Homo sapiens: one gene and its partner. The protein of the gene in region 1 interacts with the protein of each later gene in a pairwise test. Each region holds a gene or a part of one and is shown on either strand. Other genes may lie near its edges.

Evidence for each region.
Region 2: the proteins of CERT1 (region 1) and CBS interact in a two-hybrid assay, tested with the Homo sapiens proteins (one large-scale study listed by BioGRID).

Annotation. Positions count from the first base shown.
Region 1 is NC_000005.10:75,379,669-75,382,703, forward strand, and holds part of CERT1 (ceramide transfer protein), read right to left. Parts: intron 2,410-3,035; coding exon 2,281-2,409; intron 1,534-2,280; coding exon 1,404-1,533; intron 1-1,403. UniProt on the Homo sapiens protein: Shelters ceramides and diacylglycerol lipids inside its START domain and mediates the intracellular trafficking of ceramides and diacylglycerol lipids in a non-vesicular manner.
Region 2 is NC_000021.9:43,058,556-43,062,335, forward strand, and holds part of CBS (cystathionine beta-synthase), read right to left. Parts: coding exon 3,756-3,780; intron 1,992-3,755; coding exon 1,886-1,991; intron 749-1,885; coding exon 671-748; intron 414-670; coding exon 279-413; intron 1-278. UniProt on the Homo sapiens protein: Hydro-lyase catalyzing the first step of the transsulfuration pathway, where the hydroxyl group of L-serine is displaced by L-homocysteine in a beta-replacement reaction to form L-cystathionine, the precursor of L-cysteine.

The DNA of each region.
Region 1 (3,035 bases):
TCCGCCTCCGGGGTTCAAGTGATTCTCCTGCCTCAGCCTCCGGAGTAGCTGGGATTACAGGTGCACGCCACCATGCCCAGCTAATTTTGTATTTTTAGTAGAGATGGGTTTTCACCATGTTGGCTAGGATGGTCTCGAACTCTTGACCTCATGATCCGCCCGCCTCAGCCTCCCAAGGTGCTGGGATTACAGGCTGAGTCACTGTACCCAGCTGGACCAATTATGATCTTTTAAGTCCCAACCCTTCATTCCTTAACACTATCCATCAGACATAATCAGACAGCAAATAAGAAAGCATCTATAACCTTTCTACAATGTTCTTAGTTCCCGAAATTACCTGCAAAAATTAGTATAGCACCACTTAAGGTTATTTAGGGCAGATTATTCACAAATCTGTACTATAATGAAATAGTAACTTACTCAGGTACAACTGTTTCTTTGAACATACTAGCAGTTATGGCCCTGTATAAAGAAGGTATGACTTTTGATGAGAGAGGTTGCAATGATTACTCCAGGTGCAAAGCAGGTGAAGTAAGGACCCAAAGCAAGCAATGAAAAGACCTATCCAAAGTGAAACAAATATATGTAACTAGCAACTAATAAGGACTAGGGAAACGCTGACTCAGAAAACAAAAAGCCTGACAATGAATGTCAAAGAGAAATAAATATGTAACTAGCAACTAATAAGGACTAGGGGAACATTGATTCAGAAAGCTAAAAAGGCTGACAATGAGTAAAAGAACTCTTAATTTCCTTCCCCACTGTTGCTTATATTCCTAATAATAAATCTGTTCTATGAGGCAAATATCTAAGAAAATGGTGCTTAATATGAAGGCTAGGTCGAGCGCAGTGGCTCACGCCTGTAATCCCAGCACTTTGGGAGGCCGAGGTGGGTGGATCACGAGGTCAGGAGTTCAAGACCAGCCTGGCCAAGATGGTGAAACCCCGTCTCTACTAAAAATACAAAAAACTAGCCAGGCGTGGTTGTGGGCACCTGTAATCCCAGCTACAGAGGCAGAGAATCGCTTGAACCCAGGAGGCGGAGGCTGCAGTGAGCTGAGACTGCACCACTGCACTCCAGCCTGGGCAACAGAACGAGACTCCATCTCAAAAAAAAAAAAAAAAAAAAAAGAAGGGTATATACAGTGACCTAGGGATAAAGTTTTAAAATTTTCCTATCCAGCTCTAGCTTCAGAAATACTCATATAGTAGTAGTTCCAGGGTGAAATTCAGACATCTGTACTTTCAAAGATTCTCTAGTAATTCTGATATACCTTTCTCCAAATTAAAAATTAGTAATCTAATGGATAAGAACTAAAAAGGCATTTGTCCAAATTGTTGTCATATAGGTCATGATCAAGAACAGCCACATTATCAAAGAGCAAAAACAATAAAATACATACCATTAGCTACATATGTAATCTTGCATAGAATGTTGTCCCTGCTAATTTCCTGGTTTCCCTCTGGTGGGCTTACCAAGGTTTGACAAATCATAGCAACATTTATTTTGGCACGGACACATCGGTTGTTTAGCTGCCAAAACAAAAAACAAAGCATCAGTAGATACCCAGTATTTTGTAAACTCTGCTGGTCTAATATTATATTAGGTTAACCAAAATCGTAACTCTTAAAAGTATCTCCAGTGAAATCTTATAAGCACCAAGCTGATATGACACCAGGATTCCTCCCCACCCACTTTTTCTGGGGACAAGGTCTTGCTCTGTTGCCCACTCTGGAGTGCAGTGGTGCCATCATAGTTCACTGCAGCTTCAAACTCCTGGGCTCAAAGCAATCCTCCCGCCTCAACCTCCAGAGTAGCTGGGACCACAGGTGCACATCACCAGGCCTGGCTAATTAAAAAAAAAAAAAAAATTTTTTTTAATAGAGATGGGGTCTAACCATGTTGCCCAGGATCCCTTCCTCTTAAGTAGTAAATGGAGCTAAATTGTGGTAAACCACAGAGGTTTGGCTGGCAGTTGATAACGGCTTAAGAGATAACTGTGGGAAGTAGCCTACTGCCCAGTGTATGTACTGCCCTTTTGGCTGTTTCACGAAACATTAGAAGGAAAGGTAAACGGCCCTGGTGGAATGTTCATAGGCATGACTGTTGCCCTCAGACAACACATGGGCTATACTGTTCCTAGCAGTCAATCCAACATAAAATCTAAGAACCATTATCAAATCAAGTATAGTGTATGGGCTGTGTTTATCATTTTTGTCCCGCATTGTGTATTTAGCTTTATATTGTTTAATTATACACATTTATATACATGTACTTACAGGAGCACTGTCATGATCCACAGAAAAATTACAAACTATCCAAGTTTCAGGGTCATTTTCAGTCAAGGCTGGTATCTTTCGAATGACAGAAAGATATAATACGTCTCGCTGAGAAGCAGGCCACACCCTCTGTGGAGAAGTAAAAATCTTTTGAAAAACAGATCTAACATGGAACTAACAAGAGAAACGTAATGCCAATAAATGTCTTAATTGAAGGTAAAATCTCTCAAATTTTAAATGGAAAGCATCTGAGGATATCTACCAAATGATTAATTATGAACAGAGTTAATAGCTTTGCAGAACAATATAATAAAAGGAATAATGTTCTATTTTTTTAATTGCAGTAAAATATATACACGTATAATTTGTCATTTTAACTAACTTTTAGGGTACAATTCAGGGACATTAATTACATTCACAGTGTTATGTAACCATATTGCTATCTCTGAAATTTATCATCATCCCAAACAGAAACTCTGTACCCAGTAAGCAACAACTTTCCATTCCTCTCTCCTCATACTCCATGATTATGTTCTACTTAGATTCAAAGATTTAATGAAAAAAGACTTATTTGAATCAAATCACATTAGAAAGAATTCTAAGTCACTTAGATTAAATATTTCAATATTAAGGTATGCAAGGGGAAACATATACTATGGGAATGACATGGAGCCTAGGTCTTCAATAAATGGGACTACCTACTTTAAATGAGAAAAAAAACCTTTTATCCTATTTAAGTTACTTTTATTTTGGTT
Region 2 (3,780 bases), on another chromosome or scaffold:
TCTCTCCCCTGACCTCCAGGTGGGCCCAGGACAGCCTGCACACAAAGGGTGGGTGGGCTGAGGTCTGAGGGCCTGGAGTGAGCACGGCAGCCCTGCCCCAGGCTGCTCAGGGACCGGCAAGGGGCCTCCAATGCCCTGAACGTCTGTATGAGGCGGCCCAGGCGGGCCTATCAGCCCAGCTGCAGGGTCTGCATGGCTGCCCTGTCCAGTGACACTGACGGGGTGGAGCTGGGCAGACAGAACCCAGGACTGAGCTCTGAGCAGGGGCTGAGACTGACCCCGCCTCATCCACCACGGGCGCCTGGTCGAAGCCCTTCTCCCGGAGGATCTCGATGGTGTGCCCACAGGTGATGGTCGGGAGCACGGTCAGCGGGGCTGACAGGCCCAGCTCCTGAACACGGAGGTGCCACCACCTGAGGGAAGAGGGCAGGTCGGGGGGATCAGGATAAGGACAAACGCTCTCGCACCCCCGCCGGCAGCACCTCAGCAGGAGGCCACAGGGACCGCTCTCCTGCCTGTCACACTGGGCAGGGCCAGCACAGGCCACGGGGACCGCTCTCCTGCCTGTCACACTGGGCAGGGCCAGCACAGGCCACGGGGGAGTGCTCTCCTGCCTGTCACACTGGGCAGGGCCAGCACAGGCAGCGGGTCTCCGGCCGAGCGGTCTTACCAGGGCTTCTTCTCCGTGAGGTCCTCCTCCTTCAGAAAGCCCTTCTGCAGCATCCACCTGTCGCTCAGGAACTTGGTCCTGCGGGATGGGGGAGTCACCGAGTCCCCGCAGGGCCCCACCGGGCCCCCGCCCCTGCTGAGTGGCACGCACTGCCTGCCCAGCCCCTCTCCTGGACCTCACTGGTGCAGCAGAGACCCCCAAGTGCTGGCTGGAAGCCCCAGGGGGAAGCCTGGGGGCTGGACTTCCCGCCCCCATGGCCAACAAGCGTGTGTGAGCATGCACACAGCCATCGCTCAGGCACTCAGATAAACACGTCCTCTCATGCTCGCTCTCTGCCCCTCACACACTCACACGCACAGGTACACATGGCAGGCTGGCCAAGTATGTGGGGAGATGGTGTTCTTGCACTGACGGGGGTGGGCAGGAGCCCTGCACAGGGCATCTTGACCCTGGGCACCAGATGTGAATCACCCCACACTGGGGAACCCAACTGGGGGCACCCACCAGCCAGGCCTGGCCCTCCAAGGGCAGCTGAGCTCTCGGGAGCTGTGTAGCCGCTGCAGCTTGCAGGCCATGGAGGAAACCCTGCAGGTGCAGGGGACAGGGCATGGGGGTCTGTAGACACCCGCCCTGGTACCGCCTCCGGAGACCAGGTGCAGAGCAGCGCCAGTCTCAGCCTGGCTGCCCGGTGACCAGCGAGGTCTGTGGCGTTACTGTCCGAGGGGCCTCTGGGCAAAACAGTCACAGCAAGTCCTAGGGGGCCACCTGGGCAGCACTCGGTCCCAATCTGGAGTTTGGGGGAAGCAGCAGAGGGAGTCAGGGTGGATAGGAGGTGGCACAGGGCCCGGCCCAAGAGGACGTCAGTCCATGTGGCCAGGGCTACCCGTTGGAGCTCACGGACCCCAGAGCAGTGAGGGGGACAGACACCAGAGAGGAAGGGACAGGAGGGACAGAGAGGGAGCCACCGTCTTTCATGCCCCTCCTGTCAGGGCTGTCACTGCGAGTGTGCATTGATTTTCACAGCATTAAGAGGCTGGGAAGCCCCACAGCGTGAGGGCACGTGGGCAGGAGAGTGGAGGCGGTGCTCACAGGGCCCCGCTGGCCTCCTCCCCTCCCAGTTCTGGCTGCCGGTTCTCAGGTGAGGCGTGAGAGGCATCCAGGGAAGGGTGGCAGGATGGAGAGGAGCAGGGACCTGGGAGGGAAGCCGTGTCTTACATGTAGTTCCGCACTGAGTCGGGCAGAATGACCACGCAGCGCTGGCCCTCCTGCAGCTCCTGCGCGGCCTTCACGGCCACCGCCACCGTGCTGCCAGCACTGCCACCTGCAGAGAGGGCCACGAGTCAGACGCGCCAGGGTGAGCGTGCGTGGGTGCACACGTATGCATGAATTGTGCACGTGCACGCATGGGAGCATGTCAGACACACTCCGAAGGATCCGTCAAGAGGGGTTGCCTCGGGGAGAGGGGCTGGGAGGACCCCACTTCTCCGTGAGCATCGGCTTCTTCCTTGTGCACCATGGAGTTTCTGTGTCCACTCGGGGCTTCATAATGAGCTGGGGTGGGCACTGGTGCCAGGGAAATGCCTGCAGTGGGGCTGCGGCCCCTGGCAAACCTCCTGGCCCTGAGCCTAGAGCCAGCGATGCTACGAGGACGGAGCCCCCAGCACCACGCCTGCAGGCTGCCTGACTGCACACTGGGCTCTGCTTTATAAACAAGAGACCAAGGCTCACAGTGACACCAGCTGTCCCTAGGAGCCCTGAAGTCAGAGTCAGAGGCGTCTTCTCTGGGCTTAGTTTGAGGGTGCACACAGCAGTCGGGAAGGTCTAAGTCTGCAGTAGGAGCCCCCACAGGAAGAGAGGCACCCTCCTCTGTAACGGGGCCCATGGACCTGCTTTCCAGCCCCAAAGGCAGGGGCTTGTTTCTCCACCAACATGGGGAGCAGGGAGACTGAGACAGGGAGAGCCCAACGATTATGGGCACCAAGTCACCTTTCGTGACAGATTCATCTGGAAAATGCTTTTCTTTTCTTTTTTTTTTTTTTGAGATGGAGTTTTTGCTCTTATCACCCAGGCTGGAGTGCAATGGCGTGATCTCGGCTCACTGCAACCTCCACCTCCCAGGTTCAAGCAATTCTCTTGCCTCAGCCTCCCGAGTAGCTGGGATTACAGGCATGCACCATTACATCGGCTACTTTTTTTTTTTTTTTTGGTATTTTTAGTAGAGACGGGGTTTCTCCCTGTTGGCCAGGCTGGTCTTGAACTCCTGACCTCAGGTGATCCACCCGCCTCGACCTCCCAAAGTGCTGGGATTATAGGCATGAGCCAACGCGCCTGGCTGGGAAATGGTTTTTCAATCAAGACTTTCTTCCAATCTCTAGTTTGGGGCTCAGCTAACGGGGGACTTGGCCATGCTGAGGGCTGGTTTCCTTCCACTTTCCCTGTCACCACCCCCAAAGTGACATGACACACGGAATGCACATGTAGAAACCTCACATGTCCCTGCCTGCGTTTTAGAAGCTGGTGTGTGCTCTCCGAGTCCCCAGAGGTCTAGATCAACTGTGGTCCCTACAGGGCCTCTGCTGCCTGTGTGGCTAGTCAGTGGCATTGCCAGCGGCCACCTGGTCTGTCCACCCCCAAGCAGGTGGGCAGAGGGGCACGGGGTAGGAGGAAGGTGAGCGGGGTCGAGCTGGACAGCCTCAGGCTCCAGTCCCCTCCCCAGCTGCTCCAGGGTGCTCGCAGCACCCAGTCCCGGCCATGGGCCCCGTCAATGCAGAGCCACCGCCCCAGGGGCCCTGGTGGACTTGATTAGAAACAATAAGTGCCATGAGAGCTTCAGCCTTGTTCTAGAAACACATTCTGGAAGGCAGCTCGAAGCCCCGCCCCATGGCCTCCTGCCCTCACCTGAGCAGGTGACCACACTGGGCAGGCAGACAACACCTGAGGCTCGTGGCCGCCGCAGTGACACTCCTCAGAACTGCTGTCTTACACATGCAGGTCGGTGGCTGACTGAGGGTGCGCCCCCAGCCATCCCCAGTGCCCCCTAGCCATCTCTGCCTTCCCCATACCCCCGTGCCCGCCACCCACTCACCGCACAGCAGCCCCTCTTGCGCGAT